Homo sapiens: one gene and its partners. The protein of the gene in region 1 purifies or fractionates together with the protein of each later gene. This does not show direct contact. Each region holds a gene or a part of one and is shown on either strand. Other genes may lie near its edges. The genes, in order: TSNARE1, SNAP29 and APOD.

What was found.
Region 2: the proteins of TSNARE1 (region 1) and SNAP29 purify together in Homo sapiens (affinity purification with mass spectrometry; 2 studies listed by BioGRID and IntAct, with this or other methods). This does not show direct contact.
Region 3: the proteins of TSNARE1 (region 1) and APOD purify together in Homo sapiens (affinity purification with mass spectrometry; 2 studies listed by BioGRID and IntAct, with this or other methods). This does not show direct contact.

What each region holds. Positions count from the first base shown.
Region 1 is NC_000008.11:142,347,544-142,351,192, forward strand, and holds part of TSNARE1 (t-SNARE domain-containing protein 1), read right to left. Parts: intron 1-3,649.
Region 2 is NC_000022.11:20,875,972-20,879,620, reverse strand, and holds part of SNAP29 (synaptosomal-associated protein 29), read right to left. Parts: intron 1-3,649. UniProt on the Homo sapiens protein: SNAREs, soluble N-ethylmaleimide-sensitive factor-attachment protein receptors, are essential proteins for fusion of cellular membranes.
Region 3 is NC_000003.12:195,577,441-195,581,089, forward strand, and holds part of APOD (apolipoprotein D precursor), read right to left. Parts: intron 2,056-3,649; 5' UTR 2,022-2,055; coding exon 1,899-2,021; intron 1-1,898. UniProt on the Homo sapiens protein: APOD occurs in the macromolecular complex with lecithin-cholesterol acyltransferase. It is probably involved in the transport and binding of bilin. Appears to be able to transport a variety of ligands in a number of different contexts.

The DNA of each region.
Region 1 (3,649 bases):
GGATCCAGGCACTTGGTGACTGAGCTCAGCCTCTGCTCAGAAATGGGGTCCCACAGGCCCCCAGAGAGACCACAGGCCCTGCTGTCACTCAAGGACACGCCATCACCTCGCCACACTGCATCCGCTCACCCAAGTCCAGAAGGACACGCCATCACCTCGCCACACTGCATCCGCTCACCCAAGTCCAGAAGGACACGCCATCACCTCGCCACACTGCATCCGCTCACCCAAGTCCAGAAGGACACGCCATCACCTCGCCACACTGCATCCGCTCACCCAAGTCCAGAAGGACACGCCATCACCTCGCCACACTGCATCCGTTCACCCAAGTCCAGAAGGACATGTCATCACCTCACCACACTGCATCCACTCACCCAAGTCCAGGTCCTGCCCACTGCACCAACGTTATTCCACGCTGCTCCCCACGCCCCTCGAGGGGCCAGTATGCTCTGCCCACCTGAGCCACGTGAACCTAGAACATGGCAGGGACAGGCCTGGGACATTTGCTGTTTGCTTTTGAATAGAATAATACCCACAAATTACAGAAAAAATGTAAATGCAGACAGTTATAAATAAAAAAATAAAGATCACAACATCCAGAGATAAACATTAACCCTGGAGGTGGGCGGCTGTCTCCCACAAGCAAATGCTGCACGTATGGCTTTGCTTCTTCCACGCACCACATTCGCCACAAATCACAGAACGTGCGCGGGTCACTAGAGAGCCTTCGACGATGTGATTTTAATGCCTGCGTCAAATTCTATCCCAGCTGTAACACATCGTCTCCCTAAAGCCAGATGCTTACAGTATTTCTGAGTCAGCACTCGCACAAATCACATGTGGTGAACACCTCTGCCCGTGTGTCTATCTCCTAAGACAGAGTCCAAGAGGAAGCACGGCTGGGCTAAGAGAAGGAACACTCCCGGCCGCCCCAAGCTGGCTGCTCCCGGCACCCCATGCCCACCCTCCCCTGGCCCCCGCTCCCGCCCCAGGCTGCCCCGAAGCTGGCTGCTCCCGGCACCCCATGCCCACCCTCCCCTGGCCCCCGCTCCCGCCCCAGGCTGCCCCAAAGCTGGCTGCTCCCGGCACCCCATGCCCACCCTCCCCTGGCCCCCGCTCCCGCCCCAGGCTGCCAAGGGCGTGTCGACATTTTCTTTTCCTGCCAGGTTATCGTGAGGCTGACCGCTGCTGGTGCGCTGAGGAGACAGCTACATGTCCTAGCTGTCCACAGAGCTGGCCCGTGTGCATGGAGCTCTGGGGAGCTTTCTTCTGTGTATCTGAGTTATTTATGAGTTGACGACTCACTAGCTGGCTTTTTGCTGCCTCTGTCCAGAGAACGTTATAGTGACACGACGGCCCTAAGGTGCTGCACAGTTAGGGTGGCAGGACTTTGGCACACAGCAGGGACTGGGCACATGCAGCTGACCCTACACCCATGGGGAATTTGTCCAGGCCCCACCAGCCTGCCTGGAAGGCCTTGCCCAGCTCTGAGGGTCCTCGAAGGCCCCGCCCACACAGAAGGCCAAGAGCTGAGGGGAGCAAAGGAGGCACTGAGCCAGGCTCGCCCCCATGCCCCAGAAGCAGCCCCAGCGCGACGATTTTCAACAAACCGGGACAACACTGGTGCTTTTCTTTCAGATGTGTGTTCGGGTTTGAAATCACTTTAAAAAGACAACTGGAAAAAAGTACATCTGAAAATGATGAAGTAAACTTCCAAGTAATTCCTAAACAAAGAAATCATAATGGAAAGTTAAAGATATTTAGAACTGAAAAAAAATTTAAAATACTATACATTTCAAAATGTGTGATATTCAACTAAAGCAGTTTCTAGGGAAATTTCTAATTTCCAATGCTTTTATTAGAAATGAATATTTACCATATTCATGGTGAATGTGGTAAATATTCAATCTGGGAGTCAGAAAAATAAAATAGCATCAACTTAAAGAAAGGAGGGAAATGATGAAACTATGAGCAGAAATCAATCACAATTTAAAACTCGCACGCACAGAAGGGGGAAGCCAGGGGCCATATCTCTGCAGAGACCTGTGGAACTGCCAGGTCTCTGTCGATACTGACTATAAAAGAAGACAGAGAAGGTACAAATACAGAATATCAGGAATGAGAAAGGGGACGTGGTTGAGATGCTGTGGCTGTGAAAGCAGCAGCAGCCACCACTGGCCCTCAGCGGCCCTGCCCGAGCTTCACGGGTGTCGACACATCCATCTGCATGACCACCAGGCCGGAGGTCTCTTCTCACCTCCCCTTCCCAACCCTGAGTTCACAAAGCTCATGAGCAGCAGGGTGGGCAGGGCTGAGACCAAGGCAGGCAGGGTGGGTAGACAGGGCAAGGCAGACAGGGCAGGGACCAAGCAGGCAGGGCTGGCACGCTGGGACAAAGACTAGCAGGGCTGGGACCAGGGCAGGCAGGGCAGGCAAGGCTGGGACCAGGGCAGGCAGGGCGGGCAAGGCTGGGACCAGGGCAGGCAGGGCGGGCAGGGCTGGGACCAGGGCAGGCAGGGCTGGGACCAGGGCAGGCAGGGCAGGCAGGGCAGGCAGGGCAGGCAGGGCAGGCAAGGCTGGGACCAGGGCAGGCAGGGCGGGCAGGGCTGGGATCAGGGCAGGCAGGGTGGGCAGGGCTGGGACCTCGGCAGGCAGGGCTGGGACCAGGGCAGGCAGGGCGGGCAGGGCTGGGACCAGGGCAGGCCGGCTTCTGCATCTGCATCTTAACCATTACATGAGGGTGCCCCAGTGTCACAACTGACAGCGAAAGGCTATTGTGTACAATTTCATTTCAGTAAGTTGAACATTTAGATAAAACAGTCGAATTTCCAGAAAAATGCAACTTAACAAAACTGACCCAAGAAGAAACAGAAAGCCTGAATAACGTTTGACAACTAGAGGAATTAACTGGTAGTCAGAAAATCTTTCCACAAAGGAAAACACTAGACCCACATAGTTTTACAGCAAAAACCCAGAAACATTCAAGGAATACATAATCCTGTTCTTCCACAAACTCACCAAGAATAGAACCACCATCTCCATTCAACACTGCAGTAGAGGTTCCAGCCAGGAAAAGAAACACATAATAGGTGAAAGCACTGGAAAAGGAGCGAAAACACTGTCATTATGCACAAACACCACCATCTACAGGGAAAGCTCAACAGATTCCACAGACAAATAATTACAATAAAAAGGGTTTAGCAACATGGCTGGACACAAACCAGTACACAAAAATCAATTACACCACACAGGAAAACCCTGGTTTCTTCAACAAATAAACTTGGAGGGAAATAAAGAGATGGAGGGAAGCCAGAGACAGAGACACACTCGAAGGAGGAGCATAGGTCAGCTGTAACACGGGATCTCGGGAGGCTCCACGTTAAACGGCATCTCTGAAACAGACACTCCTAGAGGCCGTCGGCCACTTCAACTGCAGGTCGGGTATGGCAGCCAAACGTGCTGTCACAGTGGAAATCTGGTCACACATAAAAGGAGTCCTTCTCTTTTAGAGACACGCTGAAATATTACCAGATGAGATGATCTGCTATCTGGGATTTACTCCGGAATGACACAGCAGGGAAGCAGTTTGGGGGCACATGTACCGCCACACTGGCCACGAGCAGTGAGGGGAAGCCAAGGTACACCAGGG
Region 2 (3,649 bases), on another chromosome or scaffold:
GCCCGCCTTAGCCTCCCAAAGTTCTGGGATTACAGGCATAAGCCACCATGCTTGGCCAATTCTTAAATTGTTTTTTCTTTTTGAGACAGAGTCTTGCTCTGTTGCCCAGGCTGGAGTGCAGTGGCGTGATCTCGATTTACTGCAACCTCCATCTCCCGGGTTCAAGCTATTCTTCTGCCTCAGCCTCCTGAGTAGCTGGGATTACAGGTGCCTACTCAAGTGATCCCCCTGCCTCAGCCTCCAAAAGTGCCAGGATTACAGCCATGCAGGCATGAGCCACTGTGTCCAGCCTATTACTTTTTTTTTTTTTTTTTGAGATGGAGTCTCACTCTGTTGCCCAGGCTGGAGTGCAGTGGCACGATCTCGGCTCACTGCAACCTCTGCTGACCAGGTTTACACCATTCTCCTGTCTCAGCCTCCTGAGTAGCTGGGACTACAGGCGCCCACTACCACGCCCGGCTAATTTTTTGTATTTTTAGTGGAGACGGGGTTTCACCGTGTTAGCCGGAATGGTCTCGATCTCCTGACCTCGTGATCCGCCCACCTTGGCCTCCCAAAGTGCTGGGATTACAGGCGTGAGCCACTGCACCCGGCCACTGTTTTTATATTTTAAATTTTGTCACTAAAAAGTTGTGAAAGTATGTTTTTTTCTCATCACGTAAGTCCCTATAAAATATCTTTGATTTTGCTCCGTGGCCTAGTTTGCTGACTCTGGCTGTAGACAGGGATAGCTCTTGCAACTCAAAGTCATTTAGACTATGCCTGATGCCCTGCTGATCCCCGACATCCTGCTGAGCCCCCTAAGGTATGGCAGGTGCCTCCAGCTGGGAGCTGTGCCTCCCCAACAGCCTGCTCTCCTCTATCTCAACAGCAGCCTGACCACTTCGCCAGCCAATCTGGGAATCAGGGTTACTCGCAATTTTTGCCCTCCCCCTGCACAGCGCTACTCCCAGTAATCCAGGCAAAACAAACGCCCTCTTGATCTCCCACCCCCTAAGTAGCCCAGAAACCCAGCCTCTCCTTCTGCCTTGCCTTTTTTTTTTGAGACATAGTCTCGCTCTGTCACCCAGGCTGGAGTGCAGTGGCGTGATCTCCACGCACTGCAAGCTCCGCCTCCTGGGTTCACGCCATTCTCCTGCCTCAGCCTCCCAAGTAGCTGGGACTACAGGCGCCCGCCACCACGCCCGGCTAATTTTTTGTATTTTTAGTACAGGGTTTTTGTATTTTATTTTGTATTTTGTATTTTAGAGACAGGGTTTCACTGTGTTAGCCAGGATGGTCTCGATCTCCTGACCTCATGATCTGCCCGCCTCGGCCTCCCAAAGTGCTGGGATTACAGGCTTGAGCCACCGTGCCCGGCCTGCCTTGCTTTTCTTTACCTTTAACAAGGATTATGGCAATGCCTCTCAATTCAATTCCCTCCCTTCCAATCCTTACTCCCCATGGGTGCTGCGCATCTTTCTAAAGCAATACTGGCAAGCACCTCTTCAGTTAAAGTCTTTAATGACTCCCAACTTGCAAGAGCAAGTCCAGACTCCCGCAAGCTAAGGGTTTTGCAGGCCCAGGGCTCCAGCTATGGGTAGAATGCAGCAGAGCCTGGTGAATGGAAGGATTTAACACTCCAGGATTTCACCCCACGGAAGCTGTGACTGAAAGTCTAGAACACAGAACTGGCTCCTCTAAGCACCACTGTGGGCAGTGCATTGCCATGCTGGGAGTAGGAAGAGACACTTGGCTTCTGAGTCTGCCTGGCCACCTTTCAGCCTGCACATCTCAACGCTGGCTTTATTCTTTCTATGTGCCATCACATATATACTGGTAATACATAAATGAGGAAAACAATGGTTTCTTTGTGAAAAATGGCTCCCCCACAAAGAAAGCCAATTTTTTTCTTTTTCTTTTTTTGAGACGGAGTCTAGCTCTGTCTCCCAGGCTGGAGTGCAGGGGCATGACCTCGGCTCACTGCAACCTCCACCTCCCTGGTTCAAGAGATTCTCCTGCTTCAGCCTCCTGAGTAGCTGGGATTATAGGTGAGCGCCACTACGCCCGGCTAATTTTTTTTTTTAGAGGGAGTTCTGCTCTTGTTGCCCAGGCTGGGGTACAATGGTGCGATCTTGGCTTACTGCAACCTCTGCCTCCCTGGTTCAAGCGATTCTCCTGCCTCAGCCTCCCAAGTAGCTGAGATTACAGGTGTGTGCCACCTTGCTTGGCTCATTTTGTATTTTTAGTAGAGACAGGGTTTCTCCATGTTGGTGAGGCTGGTCTCGAACTCCTGACCTCAGGTGATCCACCCTCCTTGGCCTCCCAAAGTGCTGGGATTACAGGCGTGAGCCACCGTGCCAGGCCTGATTTTTGTATTTTTAGTAGAGACAGGGTTTCATCATGTTGGCTAGGCTGGTCTTGAACACCTGACTTTGTGATCCGCCCACCTCAACCTCCAAAGTGCTGGGATTATAGGCGTGAGCCACCACGCTCAGCCAAGAAAGCCAATTTCTAGGGAGACTGAGAAAAGTGATAAGACAGTAGAGGTTTAAGAGAGGGTGGTTCCTGGTCAGAAACCAAGTCTTAAATAAGTTAGAGAATTTCAAATTAAGGGTGCATATGTGACAGGAACGCATGAGCTGTAAGTGGAAATGAGAACAAGCAGCTTGGAAAGCTGTCAGCAAGGACAAACAGGGCTTCCCAAGAGACAAAACTTCAGAGAAGGCCGAAGGGTTTGTGTGATAATGATGTACACAGGAAATGCATGACTGAACAGAAGTTTGATAGGAGAAACTTATTTTAAAAGCTTTTGAGGCCGAGGCGGGCAGATCACTAGGTCAGGAGATCGAGACCATCCTGGCTAACATGGTGAAACCCCATCTCTACTAAAAATACAAAAAAAATTTAGCCGGGCGTGGTGGCGGGTGCCTGTAGTCCCAGCTGCTTGGGAAGCTGAGGCAGGAGAATGGCGTGAACGTGGGAGACGGAGCTTGCAGTGAGCCGAGATCACGCCACTGCACTCCAGCCTGGGTGACAGAGCGAGATTCCATCTCAAAAAAAAAAAAAAAAAGCTTTTAAGTGGGCCAGGCACAGTGGCTCATGCCTGCAATCCTAGCACTTTGGGAGGCTGAGGCGGGAAGATCAGTTGAGCCCAGGTGGTTGAGATCAGCCTGGGAGACAAAGTGAGACCTTGTTTCTACAAAAAATACGAAAATTAGCAGTGCATGGTGGCCCATGCATGTAGTCCCAGCTACTTGGGAGGCAGAGGTGGGAGGGTTGCTGGATCCTGGGAGGTGGAGGATACAGTGAGCAGAGACTGCACCACTGCACTCCAGCCTGGGCGACAGAGCGAGACATTGTCTTAAAAAAAAAAAAAAAAAAAAGGCAAAGTTTTTAAGTGACAGTATTCCTGCATTTATGGATTAAAGGTTTTGACAGGATCACAAAAATTTTACTCACAATTTATTGCATTTTTTTTTTTTGAGATGGAGTCTCTGTCGCCCAGGCTGGACTGCAGTGGCTTGATCTTGGCTCACTGCAACCTCCACCTCCCGGGTTCATGCCATTCTCCTGCCTCAGCCTCCCAAGCAGCTGGGACTACAGGTGCCCACCATCACCCCTGGCTAATTTTTTGTATTTTTAGTAGAGACGGGGTTTCACCGTGTTA
Region 3 (3,649 bases), on another chromosome or scaffold:
CAAATTCCAATTGGATTATTTGCAGAAATTGACACGCTGATCCTAAAATTCATATAAAAATGTAAGGGACACGGAATAACCAGAAGAACAAAGTTGGAGGACACATGTGTTCTTATTTCAAAGCTTACCTCAAGGCTTTGATTACTACAAAGCTATAGTAATCAACACTGTGTGGTACTGGCATAAGTATAGACATATAGATCAATAGAACTGAGAGTGCAAAAATAAACTCTCACATATACAGTCAATTGATTTCCTATAACGATTTCCTACAAGAATATTATTTGGCAATAAAAGGGGATATAGTATTGATACATGCTACAACGTGGATGAACCTTGAAAACGTTCAGTAAACCAGTCACAAAAGACCACATATAGTATGATTTCATTTTTATCAAATATGCAGAATAGGCAAATTCGGAGACAGAAAGTAGATTAGTGGTTGCCTGGGGCTGGAAGGGTTGGAGGGGAGATGGAGACTCCGTGAATGGGTATGAGGTTCCTTTTCGGAACAGTGAAATGTTCTAAATCGATGGTGGTGGTGATGGTTGCGTAACTCTGTGATGATACTAACAACAATGGAAAGTGAAAAGCTACTTTAAACAAGTGAATTACGTGCTATACAAATTATATCTCAATAAAGCTGCTATTTTTTAAATCCTGCTTTAATTCTCAAAGGACTTCTATAAATACAGATCAGTTATCATTTCCAAAGTGCTTTGGGATTTGTATCCAAAAGCGAAAGTATAACTCAGATTCCTTGGATGTTTTCTTTAAAGCCTCTCTGTGGTCTATCAGAGTTACCTGAATAAAGGGATCAGCCTGTAAGTGGAGCAAGTCAGTGTAGACGTTAGTGTACTCTATGGCCTCTTCCTACCACACCTGTATCTCCTGATCCCATGGATGGTGCTCCTTCTCCCACCCAGCGTCCCCTCAGAGGTCCCAACACTCATTCACCTTGAGGTGCGAGTGTATGATAACAACTTCGATGTTACTGTTGCCATTCTTAAAAGAGATCCAAACCTTCTCCTAAGGAGAGGAAGTCTTAAGGGTGAGATTCCAGGCTTGAGTAGCAACAGTGGGAGCCTGTGAGTCCTGTCCTCCAATAGCTGCCTCTTTCTGCCGCCCTCTTCCTTCCCCTCCCGCTAAACCCCAGGAAGAAAGACCATCTATGGAGGAGCTCGTTGTATTGATGACATTTTGGTGCAGATACCAAGAAAGCCCCCTGGAGAATTTTGGGCTTTCCTGAGCCCTGTTTGAGTGACCTTTGGGTGCCCTGCACTGCTGAGAAGCCTGGTTTTGAATCCTACTTGCATTTACCAGCTGCGTGAGCTGGGGAGGGAGATTCCGATGCTGCATCTGTAGAACAAGGATAATAGCTCTGTAGCAGCTACTATGGTTCCCTGGTCCTGTTCCCCTCAGCCCACCTCTGAGTTCACCGCAGCCACGGTAGGCAATTCCCAGACACTGCCAGCCTCCCACCTGAGACCCTGTGTCTCTCCTCTGCCAGGGGGCTCAGCTAGAGCCACGGATGCTCCCATGACCTGCTGGCAGCAGCTGTGGGACAATCGGAGGGGCATGCTCCACGTGTCCTCAGAGGGTGCCCAGTGTGACTGACCCTGACGGCCCAGGGCGACAGCTCAGGAACGCACCCTTTATTGCTTCTGTGCTGTCTCCGACTCACCTTCCCACCTGCTCTCGTGCGTCCCGGGATCATCCCAAACCTCTCTGCCTGCAGTCTTTATCTCAGCAGATGTCTGCTTTGGGGAAACCCCAAATAAGATAAATACTTGTCCCAAGGTGTGCAGTGGAAATTAAAGCAGCATAATTACATTGAACCTTGTAGAACGCTTATTCACAGCGGAGGCAGCAAAACAAACGGGAGGTTCGCCTTTTACCTTATTCACGTCAAAATTCTCCTGCACCGGAGGATTGGGGCACTTCCCAAGATGAAATGCTTGTCCCTCTGCCGCACCGAAGAGGCCAGCCAGTGCGGAAAGCAGCAGCAGCAGCATCACCATCTTGGGGCTGGGTGGCTGGAGAAGGGACCTGGAGCTGCGGGAACGCAAAGCAGCTGGGGTTGTCATTCTGAGCCTTCTAAGGCCACACAATCATGAAGTAAGAGTGCTGTGCCCATGGTCCCCTCTGTGGGCGGTCCCTCCTCTTCTCTCCCCAGCCCATGTGAACCCTCATCCTGCAGGGGAACACCTGCCTGTCCTTGTTGCTGTGAGGCCTTCCTCAGAGCCTCTGCACCTCCACGAGGGCGCTCTCTGCCTGGTATTCTGGTTTGTTGGATTGATTTTCACCCCTGTCCCACCTAATTATGCATCTCCCAGGATGGGCACTGTGTCTAGTTCTCCTCAGAATCACCCACGGACCTCAAAGTGTCGGCTCAGTAGATACTTGTCAAATGAACAGAAACAGCGTGGAGAGGGCTATGTAAAGTGGGGGATTAAAGCCTCCAAGTGAACCACGAAAGACACGAAACCAAACCAAATGTTGCCCAACACTTAGTGTCCTCTGAGATTCTTCAGGGAGATGCCTCTCTGACACCATCCCTCCCCCTGCCCTCGTCTTGCTGGCTGTTCTACCAGCCCAAGAGTGCGCTTGGAAACCTTAACAGGGAGCGGCCTGCTGGGGGCTCCAGGGTCACCCCAGCCAGGTTCAAATTGTGACTCTGCCCCATACTAAGTATAACTGTGTCCAATTTATGCCTTAGCTTCTTTGTCTAGTAAATGGGAATAATTATCATTCCTAGCTCATGAATTTTTGTGAGAATTAAATGAGATAATATACAGAGAGTACTTAGAGGAGTGTCTGATACAGAGTAAATGCTCAATAAATGCTAGTTATTGTTATTATCAAAAGCAGAAAGATGATGGTATTTCCCAGGTTTCTTCTTTCTTTTCTTTTCTTCTTTCTTTCTTCTTTTTTTTTTTTTGACATTCTGTTGAGGGTTTTTGTTTTGTTTTGTTTTGTTTTGAGATGGAGTCTCACTCTGTCACCCAGGCTGGAGTGCAGTGGCACAATCTCGGCTCACTGCAACCTCTGTCTCCCGGGTTCAAGTGATTCTCCTGCCTCAGACTCCTGAGTAGCTGGGATTACAGGTGTCCACCACAACTCCCGGCTAATTTTGGTATTTTTAGTAGAGACAGGGTTTCACCATGTTGGCCATGCTGGTCTCAAACTCCTGACCTCAGGGGATCCACCCGCCTTGGCCTCCCAAAGTGCTGGGATTACAGGCCTGAGCCACCGCACCCGGCCTGTTGAGGGTATTTTTCATAGATGAAGTTCATTAAATCAGAGAAGGACTGTCAGCTGATGTGTAACTGTGCAACAAGCATTTCAACCCCAAGAGTCCTTTGGCAGCAGAAGCTGGCTTTGAAGCGGGGCAGCAAGGCAGGGAGACAGAGGCTGCAGGACTGTGTGCAGGTTCTGGGCATTGGAAGCTCCCCTGTTTCCTTCACTGACTCGCTGTCAATTTGCTCCTTTCCTTGTGACTCCTTGCCTGTAGCTTGCACACGAGCTATTTCCAGCTCTCTGCATTTCTCCCTGTAATGATGATGACTGATGCAATGCAAGCAAAATGTTCTCAGATCTGAGCATTTCGAAGGATGTGTCATTACAGGAATAATTATAACTGCTTTAT